Linked DNA regions of Homo sapiens: region 2 is linked to region 1. Evidence: fine-mapped expression QTL. Tissue or cell type: macrophages after interferon gamma. Region 1 holds a variant in brackets; the other region holds the start of a gene. All regions are shown on one strand. Distances are from middle to middle.

The links. PIP is the estimated chance that this variant, and not a neighbour inherited with it, causes the effect.
Region 2: ARL14EP starts here. The variant in region 1 is fine-mapped to the expression of ARL14EP in macrophages after interferon gamma (Alasoo 2018, PIP 0.93).

What each region holds. Positions count from the first base shown.
Region 1 is chr11:30,237,464-30,245,572 of GRCh38, forward strand. All of the region lies in intron 1 of ARL14EP-DT (ARL14EP divergent transcript), which reads right to left. Among named protein-coding and RNA genes, the nearest start is that of FSHB, 11 kb to the left of the region's middle. The variant T/A (reference allele first, on the strand shown) is at 3,711.
Region 2 is chr11:30,318,214-30,326,322 of GRCh38, forward strand. It overlaps ARL14EP (ARF like GTPase 14 effector protein), which reads left to right and starts at 4,891. Exons shown (of 4, transcript NM_152316.3): 1 at 4,891-4,989. ARL14EP-DT (ARL14EP divergent transcript) reads right to left here and starts at 4,733. Exons shown (of 2, transcript NR_187437.1): 1 at 4,705-4,733. RefSeq lists silencers at 3,277-3,336, 4,991-5,120 and enhancers at 4,553-5,158, 4,671-4,920.

The sequences.
Region 1 (8,109 bases):
AACTGTGGAAAAGTACCCAGAGAGCCTCAAACTGTATTTATAATGTTCTATTTCTTACAAATATGATATAATGTTAATATATAAAAAACTAGGAGACTGCTGTACAGGTGTTTACTATATTCCTGTAGGCATGTTCAGTGTTTACTAGTTGACAACTAACATGGCATCTTTTTATGCACTGTACATTTAATTTAGATTTTATGCCTAATATAAGAAAAGTGAAATGGGCCCGGAGCCTAGTCTGAAGTCACACAGCTAGTGTGCAAAGCCTCAATCATTAGTATGCATTTAGTGACAGAGGTAGAGAATTCAAATCTACTTACGAAGATATGTGCCTATGTCTTCCTGGGTATAAAGCTGGACAACATTTTCCCACCTTCTTTGCAATCAAGTGTATCTGTGTGCCAGCTAATGGAATGTGGGCAGAAGTACTGCACATATTTTCACACACAGCCCATAAAAACCTCTCATAAGTGATCATCTATTCTCTTCCTCTATTTGCTGGATGTCAATCCTGAAGGTGACTAGGAAAGTTTGTGTTGATGAAAACAGAACCATTGTCAACCTGGATCCCCGAATGTCTGCATGGAGCAGTGTGCCCAATATCAACAACCCCTTATAGCAGGCTGTGTGGATGCTATGCATCAACACCGTAAACTTCTAGTCACTGACATTTGTGAGTTTATTCGTTTTAAAAAATGCATTATTTTAACTTACAAATATTGGTACTGGAAGTGGCGTGTTGCATTAATGAAAACCTTAGCACATATGGCATTGGCTTAGTGGTTGTACAATAGGAGAAAAGAAAGTAGTAATCATAGTGGCAACCAAAATGAGTGATTGAAAGGCACGTCTCAGTCACCAAGGTTTATTGTGCCAGTTTGAGGATGCATCCAGGAAAAACTCAAGTAACAGACACATCTGTGGCTGTTTTTCCAAAGAGGTTCTCGGAGGTTTAATATTTATACATTTTCTTTTACAAAGGTAGAGGAGTCGGTGCGGCAATGAGACAAATGATTACATACTTGTGAGATTTTAGTTAGTACTCGGTAAATCTACATTTTATGTAAGATAAGGTGAACAAAGTAAATAGGAATGGAGGAAGCAGACATCTCAGCGTAGAGTGAAGGAATGATTACTCTCATCTTCTCTTTGTTCTGTACCTGGGAAAATAAACTAGTAGATATTATCAGAGTGGACTTTTTTTGAAAAAGCTGGTGTCTAGTTAGCTCTTAGGGAAGAAAGCCTAAGAGCTTGGAGGGAATATCATGAAGCCTTTCGGACCTCCCATCCCATCATGCCATGAACTTAGCTTCCAAGTTTTCTATGGGGTCCCCTTGGCCAAGAGAAGAATCTGTTCTGTCAGTTAGTGGTTTAGAATGTTATTATTTCTCAAGAGTACAACTTTCGGCTGGACATGGGGGCTCATGCCTATAATCCCAGCGCTTTGGGAGGCCAAGGTGGGCAGATCACCTGAGGCCAGGAGTTCGAGACAAGCCTGGCCAACATGGTGAAACCCCATCTCTGCAAAAAATATAAAAAATTAGCCAGGTGTGGTGGTGCGTGCCTGAGGCCTAAGAATTGCTTGAAACCAGGATGCAGAGGTTGCAATGAGCTAAGATGACACAACTGCACTTCAGCCTCAGGGACAAAGTGAGACTCACAAAAAAAAAAAAAAAAAAAAAAAGAGTACAACTTTCACCTGGGAAAACATGAAGGCTGGCCACATGCCTATTCAGTCCTTAGCTTTATGGCAGGGTCAGCAAATTATGCCCTGAAGGCCAAATCTGGCCCATCACCTTTTTTTTTAAACAAAGCTTATTGGAACACAGCCACCCTAATTTTTTACGTATTGTCTATGATTGCTTTTGTACTACAAAAGCAGAATTCAAAGACCATATGGCCCACAATGTAAATAAAATATAATTTGAAACTTTACAGAAAAATTTGCCAGCCTCTGCTCTAAGGGAAAGGCTTACAAAGAACCGGAACGTAAAGGGAGTTGGCTTTTCCTTTCTAGATATTAAAGAGATAGCTTTTTTGCAAAATGGAATGGAGAAAGTCCAGAAATTTTTGCCTCAATTGTATGTAAATGTCTATTGCTTCCTCATCCCAAATAGTAAGTGATAAGATGGATTTGAAAAACAAATACATAGTAAGACATAAGATGGATTTGAAAAACAAATGAATACTAAGAGATAAGACGGATTTGAAAAACAAATAAATAGTAAGAGATAAGATGGATTTGAAAAACAAAGGCTCATTAAAACTCGGTTCTGAGGTAAAGACAGATTTAGGGTATGGTCTTCCCATCTAGATCTTCTATCTCAGGTACTATCATGGTAGAACTACTAAGTTGTAAGGAAGCAAAAAAAAAAATCAAGATTGATAATTATGAATAAGAAAAAACTTTTAACATGTTTATAGGCACTAGAAACTAAATGGAAATATCTGAAGGAGCTGATTGTCAAAGAAACTAGGAGACCAGACTAAAAATGCCTTTCTTTGAACAACCTTTGGGCTCCTAAACTTGATGAGGAGAAAATAGACTACGAAACCTGTACAAGACCAAGGAGGATGACTCTCCAACATCCACTTTGAATGTGGTCATGGAAGGTAATGGATAAGGAAGAACTTTCCAGATGATAGAGCCAGGAGCCATGGAGAACAATGGACAAGGGAAGAATGTTGCCCCTAGTGAGAAGCAGCAGCATCTAATCCAGGAACTTCCTCCACTGGCCTGGCAAAAGGATTTCATAAAGTTTGCCCAGTAGGGTTTCATCATTGCTTAATCCAGTGAGCTGTGTCTCCCATTCTTTCTTCTTACGAATAGAAGTATTATTGTGAACGGAGTTATTGCGCAAAGTGTCCGTACTTCATCCCTGAATACCGGGGGGAAAGGGACAAGGAAGATAACAAGTCTTTTTTGTCCACAGGTTGAGTTGCCAGCTCATGAGAAGCCACATTTGGACATTATAAAGAAAACTGTGTATCATCCGGGTATTAAGGGCCTGGAATTGGACTAAAGAAGGGGAGGAGGTGGTTCCAGATGACAGAGAAAGATGAAACTGATATTTGTTCTCAGAAGGTTGGACTGTGACAGAGATTGTTACGTGTTCACAGAAACCTTCTCTATTTTTCCTGGGGACATAGTTTGCAGCCCCACTTGTAGAAAGGTATATTTATGTCACCAAGTTCTACCAATAACCAAGGTTATCAGAAATGATGTGTGCTACTTCTAGGTCTGGCTCATAAATCCTCTGACAGGTAAATCGTACTCTCTTCTACTCTCAGGTGACTGAGTACTAATGATTAAAGCAACCTTGGAAGCCATGCACAGAGAGCAGCAGAGGCTCTACAGCCTAAATCTCAGAATGCCCAGAGGACTCAAACATGCCTAAACACCTGTTCCCTCTGAAAGAACTTTGTATGAACAAGAAACAAATTTCTCTTGTGTTAAGTCACTGAGACTTGGGGGTTTATTTGTTACAGCAGGTAATATTACCTTAACTATTGTAGGGATCCACAGTACTTAAGGAGCTTAAATATAATGTTTCAGATCAACTCACATGAACCAAGTATAAAATTAGTTATCTAATAATGTATACATATATACCCAGATCACAATCTTCTGTTAAAATACGCAAAACAGCTTTGTTATTTAGTACTTTAAGTTTTTGCCTGGAGGAGTGTGTGTGTGTGTGTGTGTG[T/A]GAGAGAGAGAGAGAGAGAGAGAGAGAGAGAGAGAGAGAGAGAGAGAGAATTTCCCTAAATAAAATTTCCTCCTTCTTTCTGTCTGAAAGTGGCTCAGGGAATCACTGACTACTATTTCATATGAAATACTCAACACAAAAAGGCAAGCTAGTGCCTCCTACTGGTCCCGCTGATAAAGTACATATCCTTGAGACAGTGTATCACAGAGCTGTTAAGTGGGGAATCCAGGATCAGGGAGTTCTCATGACTTTAGAGCCTGTGTACCATCTACCATACTCCAACATTCTTTACAAGCATTATCATGAGGGTATTTCAGCGGTCCATGTAGATTACTTGGTAATGTTGGGCTGGGACTTAAAATTTGACCCTCAGTTTACTAATAAGGTTTTAAAGAAGCCAGACACTCATATCACACCAGGATAAAATGCTACCTTTCCAAACGAGATTACTTCAAAGCCTTAATGCATCTGGGGAAACAGAGGGTAACCCTGGGGGATATGTAATATTGACTAGACCAAATGCCAGAGATTAGGAGCAGGGAGAGAGTAGTGAAAGTACAGAGGAGACAGGAAACAATTAAAGTTATTAAACAATAATTCTTCAAGGAATCCCTTACATGGAGTATATTTATTTCCACCTTAAACATAATTTTCCAAAATCTAAAGCAAAAGACCTTTTTACTCCATTAGCATTTCTTTCTCGATTTCCAATAAAAAAGATCAGCTGAAAAGATCAGCCAGTAACATCTACAATAATAAAACAATCTCAGCCACCTTTAAGCAATGTACATAATAATCATATTTAAAGTCTATATATAGAAGGTGGTCTGCTTGTCCATGTGAAGACACAGGTATTTAGACAATCAATCCAGATTAAATTATTAAAGTAATAAATAACAATTGAGAACCAACTGAAATAATAGTAGGTGCTAAACAGTAGCAGCACTTAGAAAGTCAACTGCCCTTAAAATAAGCAGAAAACCAAAAGCCCATCACACAGCAGCTGAGATCTGAGTGAATTTTGAGGGTAAAATTGTGTGGGGTATGCAATGAAATCAGTGCCACCAAGTCAAGTTTATGGCAATCTTCTAATCAGAGGCTTTATTGGCAAAGGAAAGGAAGATTCTTTACATGAAAGGAAGGTTCTATTGTAATGATGTCCATGGAATTGGAACTAAAACTAAAATAGCTAAAGGACCAAAATGGTCATTCTTGCTTTAAGGGTTCCCAAGTCTCCTTCCTAACATTTCTCTTTCTCCCTGCACAGCAGTTCCAATCTCCACAGTATGGATGTGCTGTTAATTACAGGTGTCTTTCAACATAAGCACCCAGAATCAATCAGAACTTCTCTTTGAGTCTCTTAGCCTAAATTCCACTCCCCACCAAAAAAAAAAAAAAGGATTTGATTGATTCAAATGTTATCATTTCTCTTTGTGTAGAGTCTTTCACACAAGACCATGATGAAGGCCACTAGGTACCTGTGATGGTTAATATTGAGTGTCAACTTGATTGGATTGAAAGATGCAAAGTTTTGTTCCTGGTGTGTCTGTGAGGGTGTTGCCAAAGGAGATTAACATTTGAGTCAGTGGACTGGGAAAGGCAGACCCACCCTCAATTTGGGTGGGCATAATCTAATTGGCTGCCAGCGTGGCTAGAATAAAGCCGGCAGAAGAAGGTGGAAAGAGCTGACTTGCTGAGTCTTCTGGCCTTCATCTTTCTCCTGTGCTGGACGTTTCCTGCCCTTGAACATTGGACTCCAAGTTCTTCAGCATTTGGACTCTTGGTCTTACACTAGTGAGTATAAATGACTCTTGGACTTAACATCAGTGAGTCCACAGACTGAAGCCTGCACTGTCAGCTTCTCTACTTTTGAGGCTTTGGGACTCGGAGTGGCTCCCTTGCTCCCCAGCTTGCAGATGGCCTATTGTGGGACCTTACCTTGTGATCATATGAGTCAATACTCCTTAATAAACTCTGCTTCACTTACACATCTATCCTATTAGTTCTGTTCCCCTATAGAATCCTAACTAATACCCCAACAGTACACTTCTGGGTACCCTAATGATAGGCTGCCTTTGAAAGCAGGATACAACCATTGTCTCTTCAGTGACTTCCCAGGAGCAAAGAACAGCCTGATACTATTACTTTTTAGCAAAGGAGAGATTGAAAGACGGTTTAATCTAGAAAGAGAAGCTGACAATGACAGGCAGATTGATTTCCATATCTGAAACAAATATTTTTCTGAAGTCAGAACTAAGAATTTAGTGGCCTTGAAAAGCTCTAAGTAGTTTTTCTGTATTTGAAGAAAAAAGAAGTGATTCATCCTTTTGAAGATAGGCATATTGATCTGAATTCAGTCAATTTTGTGGGCATTGGCCCCAACATATACCTATTATTTGCCACTGTCATCAGTATGCTGAACAAACAGGACTCACAGAGTGAGATCCTAAAAGCAACTTTATTTTGCTCTCCCATTGTCCCTGTGAATTTGCTAAAAGGAAGCTGTCCTTCTCCTGCCACTGGATGGAAATCTATCAGGCTACATGGCCTGATGTATCAATGGTCACTTTGGGTAACAAAGTTTTCATTATCACTTCACAAGCACAATAGTAACCAAAAACCTTCAGTCTCTACTACATAAGCACAACAGTAACCAAAAACTGCCAGTCCCTACTAATAACAAAAGTTTCAATCAAACCTGAGTCAATATTAAACATATCCCATCCTTGGAGGAGTGGAGGTATAATTCTTTAACTCTCTCTCCCCATCTGGGATTTCTATTCCCTGTTCCTAGGTCACTGCTCCTTCTGGATTAGAATACAGAGTGGGAAAAGAGGAAGAGCCAAAGGAAATGGGTACATCCTCTCAGGACATGATAGCTGTTTGACAGTGACTCTTTTCTAAGCATGTGTCTGTGCTCTTTCAGAGGCACCTCTGCTGGGACCCTCCAACCATAATTCCATTGTCATGGGGAATGCATCTCTGGAGGCAGGCTTTCTTTATTTAACACTATATACCTCAAATCTCTGTAAAGAACTGTATTGAGCAGGAGCCTTTATTAAATAGACATTCCTAAGGTGAGGTTCCCATTCTGGCCCCAGAATTTTTGCCACATTGGCCCAATATTGGTGGGTGGAGAGGGTGGAGGGAGAGCAGTTGCTTTCTAGTTCCATTCCTCTACTTTGAAGCCACAGGAAGATTTAGATAACTTCTTCACTTTTAGCTTTCTCAGGCATGAGTCAGATATTAGTCACTGTATCTAACAATTCTAGGGACTGTTCATGAAGCTCTCTGAATGATCCCACTTAATCCTCCCTCCCTTGAATTCGAAATAAGGAGCACATACCTCTCCACCTTGCCTCCTTAGCAACAGGATATAGGGTGGGAAGTTTATACAACCTCCTCCAAAGCATTCCTCTTCATAAAATATTCTCATTTTCAAACACCCACATTTTTTTAAATCCCTTACTGACAGTGAGGCTCTCTGAGAATTTTTTGGCCATCTACTTTGAAATTCCTAAAGGATGGTCTGACTCACTTTGATATCTGAAATTTACTACATCTTGATGTCTTGAAACTTTGATTCTAACATCCTATTATACTGCCTAATACATTATAGGAAATCAATTGATCAAAAATGAAAAGAAACGTAATGCTTATGATTTTCATTTTTGCCCTATCTTTATTCCAGTGTTAGAAACTTCCTTCACCTGTACACTGACCTGCAGATCATTCTTGAGTTATCTATTCTTGATGGTCTCAAAAGAAATGTAGTGGGGGAGTTCTAGGACATGACACATGCAGGAAACTGAAATGGAAATGATATCCAGATAGACACAGTGCTGCTGCGAGATGACTGCTTCTCCACTGAAATGCAATTTCACTGTCTCCTAAATTACATTTTCCCCCACCAATTCACTTAATATGCACCTTCAGAATGCTGTCTCGGAATTTAATTTTCCTCTGGGCAAAATGTTACATTCTCATCTATCCTTGAGCATGTTTTATGCCCTTTTTTATTTTCTTAAATAAATGTTGGGACAAAGACAAATGAGCAGAAGCTGCAAGAAGGCGCATGGGCCAGTGAGTGAAAAAGGGAGAGAGACAAAGCCATTTTGGGAACTGTCTTACTTAACTCAGACTTTCATAACAAATACCATAGAACGGGTGGTTTAAGCAACAGAAATTTATTTTATCACTGCTCTGGAGGCTAGAAGTTCCAAATCAGGGTGCTGGCTAATTTGCTTCCCGGTAAAAGATCTTTTCCTAATTTGCCACCTTCTCTCTGTGTCTTCACATGGCAAGGAGATACAGAGATAGAGAGAGAGAGCAAGCTCTCTCTTGTCTCTTCTTATCAGGATACTAATACTTTCAGATCAAAGCCCCATCCTTATGACCT
Region 2 (8,109 bases), 81 kb after region 1:
GCTTTCACCTTGCTTCCTGGAGCACAAACCCTGGGAGCTCTGAGACACCATGTAATAAATCCAACTACCTTCTGGCTGTCATGCTGTGAGGAAGACCAAACTAGCCTAAGCAAAGAGCCCACGTGGAGACAGAAAGAGAGAGAGAAAGACCAACCTGGCCCAGCTCCTACTGTTACTTTGATTGGTAGAAACAAATAAGTGCTTCTTACAAGGTCTGTCAATCTGCTCCTGCTTATGGGAAGACAAACTATTCCCAGCCCTGTGTAAGTACTAGAAACTGTTTGGCCCACTGCTTTTTGGTGTCTTTTCCCTAGCCTCGTGGAGTTTCATCCTTCCATTGCACAGATAAGTACTCAGAGCCAAAGGGAAGTACGCAATACAAAGGAACACTCTTGCAGATGTCCAAGACTCTCCTGTGTGCCATGTCCTCCTCTCAGATACTCTGCCCATCAGCCTCTCCAACTTCCCATCTCTGTCACCTCCATCTCTGTCGCCTCCATTTAGTGAAATCACCGGTTTTTGTTTGGGTTCCCCTCCCTGTTCTAGGCTCTGGACACTGCCTCCAGATAGTAAGCTGGGGTCATTATGGAACTTAATTCATTCGTTTCCCTTCTCTCAGGGATCACGATACTGCACTGCCTGTTGGCTAATGTCTGAAAACAATGATTTCATAGATACATACATATATGTGTATATGTATATATACAACCCTTTCCTAAATATGTATAAGTATACATACTTATGATTTATATGAATGTATATATGTGTGTATATATTATATATCTTATACATATTATATATTTATAATATATATTTTATATATGTATATAAAATATAAATATTATATTTTATCATATGCATATATTTTATATATCTATATATTTATATATTATATATAACATATTCAGTATATAAATATATATAAAATGATATATACATATCATATATTTTATATTATATATATGCGTAAATACATGTATGTAATATATAAAATATATATTTTTTTCAAGTGATACTCCCATCTCAGCTTCTCCAGTAGCTGGGACTACACTTGTGAGCTACCGTGCCCAATTCATTTCACATATTATGCTCAATTTTCCAGATATTTCTAGTGATAGGGTAATTCTGCAGAAGCAGAAATCCAAATGTAATTGCTAAAACCTAAATTAAAACTGAATTGTGTTCTTTAATCTTAAAATTCACATTCAAAGACACAAAAAAGGGGTGCCTCTTTATACTTGACAGTAAAGCTTGTTGAAGATGTTCTCTCAGGTAGCTGTTAGCATCTCTAACTTCCCGCTCTTTAATTGGGTATATTCTGACTTCTACCATCACCATATCACTGAAACAGGTCTTATTACACCATCTATAACTATCTTATTAGTACAGCTAAGGAATATATTTAGTTCTTTTTATTTTCCTTCTAGTTCATTTCAGTCTGAGCTGGAAAATGAGTTATTTCCTTACTTGACTTTCTACACCTGTGCTATCCACTCTGGTAGCCACTAGGCACATGCGGCTACTGAATATTTGAAGTGTAGCTAGACCAAATTGAGAGGCACTGGAGGTGTAATACACACACCAGGTTTCCAAGACATAATATGAATTAAAGGACGTGACATATCTCATTAGTTTTTATGTTAATTGCATGTTAAAATGATAATGTCTTAATTATTGGGTTAAACAAGCGCTATCTCTAAAATTAATTTCATCTGCTTCTGTTTACCTTTTTATATCACTACTAGAAAATTTACAATGGCTTATGTGACTCACATTGTATTTCTAATGGCCAGTACTGCTCTATAACAACCTCTTGCACCGACAGAGCCCTGCTTTAAACTTTCCTTTCTTGGTTTGTGGGTCTCTGTTCTTCCCTAGTTTTCTTGCTACCTCGCTGTCTGCTCCTTCTCAGACTTTTCTGAGACCTAAATCTGTTGTTCTAAAATCGTAGTGTGCTGCAAAATCACCTGGGTTGCTTGCCAAAAATGCAGATTCTTGGATCTTATCTGCAGATATTATGATCTGGTAGACTGGCTTGGAGGACCGAGATTCTGATTCAGTAAAATAGAACGAGAGCTCAGAAATTTAGAATAATCTTTAGCCCTATTCTTTCTCATTTTACCCTATACATTCCATAGGTATCATCTTCCCTATCCCACCCAGCTCCAAAGATAGAACTACCACTCACAGACTAACATCTCCCAAAACTCTTATCTTCCAGCTGAGATCCCTCTCTTATCCTGCCCTCTTCTTCCAGCTGCCAGCTGTATATCTTCACTTGGAGGTACATTTGATAAGTTTGAGAAAACTTAGCGTATTCAGTATTTAAATTCTTATCTCTGTTCTCCCTAGCCCATTCCTCCTTTTGACCTCCCAGTTATCCAAGCTAGAAACCTGAAATAATTATTTACTACTTCCTAACCTCTATATCTAATCAGTTAAAAAATCTGACCAATTCTTACTTAACTTCTATCATCTCTATGCCTTTTAAATGTCCTTCATTTAGGGTTTCTCAATCTTGGCTCTACTGAAATCTTGAGCCAGTTAGTTCTTTGTTGTTGGAGGAGGGAGGTTGTCCTGTGCATTGTTAAGTGTTTAGCAGTTACCCTGTCCTTTACCCCTCTAGATACTAGTAGCACCCCTTGCTGGTACAGCCACAATGTTTCTAGACATTACCAAATCCAGTGGGAGGAGGTGAGTGGGAGGGAATCACATTTCAACCCATAGAGCCACTGCCTCACTTGATGGAGGCCCTCTTCTTAATCATCTGCGTTAGGGCAAGAGTTTCCACCTGGCCCTCTAGCCCAGGACCGCACCTCTCTTCTATTCTCTACACTCCTGATAGTTTTACAGTTTTCACAGGTTAAAATTCAGTATCTCTAATATGGCATAAAAAGGGCATTATTTGTTACCTATGCGCCTTTCCAGCTTTCCACTCTACCCATACTGAAAGGCTTTGCAGTTTCCTTAGGGATGGATGAAAGGCGTAAGAAGTGTTAACTATAGACAGTAACTAAGCTAGTAGCTTATGAGATAAATGCAAAACTCCTAGCATATTTTAAATATAGAATATGAGTAAGCATGTACTTTGTGAAACATAGGCAGGATTATGTAAAATATATAGAGTAAGTTAGTAAACTATAAGACATGCCAAAGTTAAATAGAAATATGATGGAATAGAGAGTCACTGATAGCCAAAAAGGGATGGAAAAACTAAGCAATGAGCAATCATGACATCTCTGGGCTATTAACTATGTCACCTCTAAATCAGCCACCCATTGGTCACACTTAGAATAGTCTCATATGTGCTCTGCCCAGGAAATGCAAATAAAACCTGTATCTGTTCAACAACTTACCGAGTAAGCTCTGGCTGTGACCAGGCATACTTCTCTGCGTCTATCCAATAAAGCAGGTGTGTACCATTGGCCCAAAGCACTTTCCACCTGTGGGCCTCCTTGCTGACACCTCACCTCTGGTCCTCGTAAGTATACCACCAGCGGAGAAGGCTGTTGTGGCAGATAGGATATATGAACATTACTTAACCCATGATTCAGGTGATGGCGTCCTTCCACTTGCTTGCACCTTATCCTAAGTGTGTCCACTTACCACAACTCTTTCACCTTTTCACTGGATACTTAAATTGAATAGGCTATATTATTTAATAATCTTAATTTGATCTGTGAGCCTTCTCTGTTTCATTACCTTTAGGATAGCTTGCCTAGTTTACTAGGAAGTCACAATTGCATCAAATTAAGTTCCATGCAGGCATTAATCTCCTCCCAGAACGCTCCTGCTTTAGCCCCTATCATTTTATCCTGTTTATATCCATGTGTTTCTGTTATGACACTTTTCACACCACACTGTGATTAACTGTTTATTCCTCTCTCACTAGTCTGTGAGCTCCTTGGAAGCAGAAATAAATTTTGTTTTTGTCTAATCATTGCTTAACAAAGTGCCAACCACAAAGTAAACAGTAAAAGAATTACAGAATGCAACCTCCTGCAGACACAGTTGAAGAAACTATTCATTGTTTTTTCCTTTCTGTCATTCCCTAGTTCTAGGCATCAAATCGCTTGCCTAGTCGGCGAGCAGTATGAAAGTGGTGGGAGGACCATAGACGCACTGCAGAAAACAGCTTACAGTAGATGCAGAGAATTACTAGCACGCTTGGGCCTTGGTGGGGCTTGTCTTATTTACCTGTTCCTCATTTTTCACTGGGAGTTTAAAACAAGTTTTTGTTTCCCTGCTATCCCGACCTTAAGATAATTAAAAGGCCAAGAATCTTTAAGAGACTTTCAGTTCTCCTGGATTCTAGATAATAAAACCCACTTTAAAAATTAATGAGCACCTATACTGTGACAGACAATAAGGATACAATAAAAATACCATTTCTGTTCTGAGAAAATTTACAAGCATCTTCCTGGAGCCTACATTTTACTCGAAGTAATAGCTATTTTTATAGCTTACAATAAAAGATGCATTTTGGAATATATTTCGCTTGAATTAAAGAAATAGAATGTGAGACCTTAAACAAAGGGTCCGTTCTTCAGATCCTTTTAACTCACACTCTCCTTCAGGGGTCGGGGTATTTGGGTGCAAAAGTTTACTATCACGCACAGGTGTAGAGATGTACAAATACGATCCAATTTAGTGGAAACTGTGTCTTGTAAGAGATGGCCCCCAGGGACCTCCCACATCCCTAACCTCTCGGAGGACTGCAAAAGACAGCATCTGAAGCACCTCTTGCCTCGCCTTGAATCATTTGCCACTTCACACCGCCCCGCCCCTTCCGTCCCCGGAGGCGGCCAGCCTCGTGTCCGCTCTAGGCTTCTCCCGGACGTCTCTTTGTGGTGGCGTTGAGCTCCTCTAGCCCGCGCTTGCCGTCCTCTCAGTGGTAGCGCGGGGACTGGCTGGGAAGCGGTCGGTCGAGTGTGGCCTGTGTGGACTCGCATCTTGCCCGAAGCCGGGCGGAGGAGAGCTCAAGCTAAGGTGGAAGGGGAACGGGGGAGGCCCTGGAGAGGAGTGGGAGAGTGGAGACAGGCCCCTGGGTGGCGAGGGAGCCCGGCGGCGTAACGGGGGAACCCGGGGAGAGGTGGAAGAGGAGGCCCGCACACGTGAGGGGGATTTCCAGCTGCTGGCCGGGGCCTCTCACCCCTACCCCCGCGTAGTTCATCTGCGACGCAACGCCTTGTGTCAAAGCCCAGCACAGGTTCTGCCGCCTCTGACCTCTCTGAGGGTCGTCGCCTGTCCTGTAGGCCCAGGACCTTCAAAGCTACGATTTTGACGTGAACTACTTAGGGTTATTGTGGCCTTGAACTCCGTAGACAGCCTTTATCTCTGCTATTTTTGTTTTTAATTTTTCAAATCAGAATCCTTTCAACCCTGGCCGTTTGAGGCCAAAGGCTAATGTTTATTTTTCCATCCCGGTACCATGAACTTAGTAGGTGCCCACTGGACGGATCTGGTGGTTTTAGTCATTTGTAAATAGCCGTGAACTAAGGAAGAAATGTATGTGGCCTCTTACAGGGTTGGGTTGGGAATCATTGCAGGGTTTGGGGGCACTCTGTTAGGCATGATAACAACAGCTCTAGGCTTGAGTTTCTTCATCTGTAAATGAGAATGATAGTACTTTCCTCAGGGTGGCTATGAAGGTTCCTGAAATGATGTTTGCCCTAAGCACTGTACCTGGCATGTCCTGACTACCACACTTGAACCAAATCTTTTCAATGGTGTTATGGACTATATTTTTGTTTTAAATTGCCTTTACCTTTCTTATTGTACCTAGATCTTCCTGAGGATTGAGACTCTCCTCTTTGCCTTTGGGCCAATTGTCATGTTATAGGTAATCAGTATTTGAAGATGACAGGCACAAAAAGTTCACAGTTGCAGGATGCGTGACTTTTGTAGGCGTATGTACCCATAACTAAAGCTCCTGATTTGGGGAGTAGGGGTAGATTAAATTATATTTTTATTAAATAAGAGATAATCTGGGAAGACGCTGTGTAAGTTGTAAGACCCTATGCCAAGAAAAGCCTTTAATTTTTTTCATAAAACATTTCATGAAAACTTTTTTTATGTTTTTCATAAAAGAGACATCAGTTGACCTAAAAACGAAGTAAATTTTTTGTTTTGTTAAATTTCCTCTAAATGTTACTTTTCCCACTAATAAGGAGACTGGTAACAAACTAAAAAACTATGTTAAGGGAAATTAACATATTGGAACGGGTATTTCTGCATCTCCCCTACAAATTTAGGAAGAAAAAGTGAGTTCCCTAATTAATCCTCAATTCCCTCTGCTGTTGTTTTGTTAGTGGCTGTTTTGCTGTTTTGTTAGTGGTGGGGGGGGTGTTCTGCATTAACACCCCGAAACCCCTGTGATAATGTCCTAGACCTTGCAAGCATCATGGCCGCGTGTGAGTTTTCTCAGCTTCCTCAACCTAATCTACCTTCCTTACCGTTTGGTAATGGGCAGCAAGAGAAAATGCTTAAGAACTCTTTAAAACTACTGATGTTTTAAAGTAAAGCTGGATAATTCCCTGAGCTGGCAGCGTTCAAATTGTATGAGGAGCAAATACTTTTGTTTACTGCCTAAGGTAGTAGGAGAGGTCTAATCAAAGTATTCTACATTTATTTCATTCTCTTTTGATTCTTAGGTAGTGCTACAAAAATATTAAATGTTAATCTTAGAATACAAAACATGCTGTATTTAGGCACTAAAGTAAAGTGATGTCAATCCTAAGGCAGCAGAAAGTCTTAATTTTCTCCTATGCAGAATTTTTAAAAGACAATGTCAGATAAGAAATCTGGACTTAGGAGAGACTTTATTCAAAAGGGTTATCACAAAAGGAGAAAAGGGACTTTTGCAATGGGTAGAACCAAAAGATCTGCAAGAATCTCCAAGGAGTGAACTGTGCTAGAAAGTTTTGGTGTGAGGAAGTAGGATATAAGGGTGGCTTGATCTAATAGTAGATCTGAGAATGTTATTCCTTGGCTCTGGCTGAGAGTTGGCCAAAGCTCAGGAACCTGGGGGAAGGAGAGAAACTAAAGTTTGATTAACAAGTATTTTGTTCCACTTGATCTGTAGGGCCAAGCAGATCAGCAAATTATTCATAAATTCATAGTTGAAGCAAAAAATGAGAATTTGGAGGGTCTTTCTTTTGCCTGGTCATAGGTAAACAAGGGGGGATCCTTGAGTCTTACCTAACTCAAGGGTGGGAGGATTTTTTAAATTATAGCTAATAAGGAGCCAGCACAGGGCTCAAGCAAAATTCAACTTGCCAAAAAGTGTTTTTATTATTTGACATTGAAAAGTATTGAAAACCTGGATTTTATTTATACCATGGTGAATCTTTCTAAAACTGGGGTTTTTGTTATTGGTTTGCTTGTTATCCTATAAGAAGCTGGATTTTTTTTCTTCCATGAAGAGTACTAGGTTTTATATTGACCAAAGTGTTTGGAGCAAATTAATCTTTTCTTGCGTTAAAAGATTATTAAAATAGGAACTGGTAAGATGCTATAACCAGTTTAAATGACAATTAAAAGTAGACATGTTTATAGAGCAGGAATATTGAAATAAATGTGCAAGTGAGGGCAAAATTGGCTGCTTCCACAGTCAGACGGAAGTCCATTGAACCTTCAGCAGATAGAATTTACAAGAATACAGACAATTATTTTGCATTGCTGTTGGTTATCTACAGTTGACAGTTGTAAAATAGCTCCAAGATGCTGAAAGAATCAGACTTCCCATGTAATCAGAATGTGAAAACCTGAAAGGCTGTGCTCTCAACAGTGCAGTTTTCTATTGAAGCAGATGTTTTTCTCTGTCCTTAGTGTATCGAATTTAAATCTCCTCTCCCTCAATAATCTTCCCTAGAGTTAGACTTCCTGTAAGGCAAATACATATCTGTGTTTTTCTTACTCTTTTTTGCTATCTTCTATAAAATATAGAAGATATCAAAACATTTTAAATTTAAATTTTTTAATTGAATTATCTGAAGCAGTACATAGCAAACTGTAATGTGCTTACAAATCACTTGGGTATCTTTTTGAAATGCAGATCCTGACTCATTGGGTCTGGAGCTGATACTGAGATTCTGTATTTCTACTGAG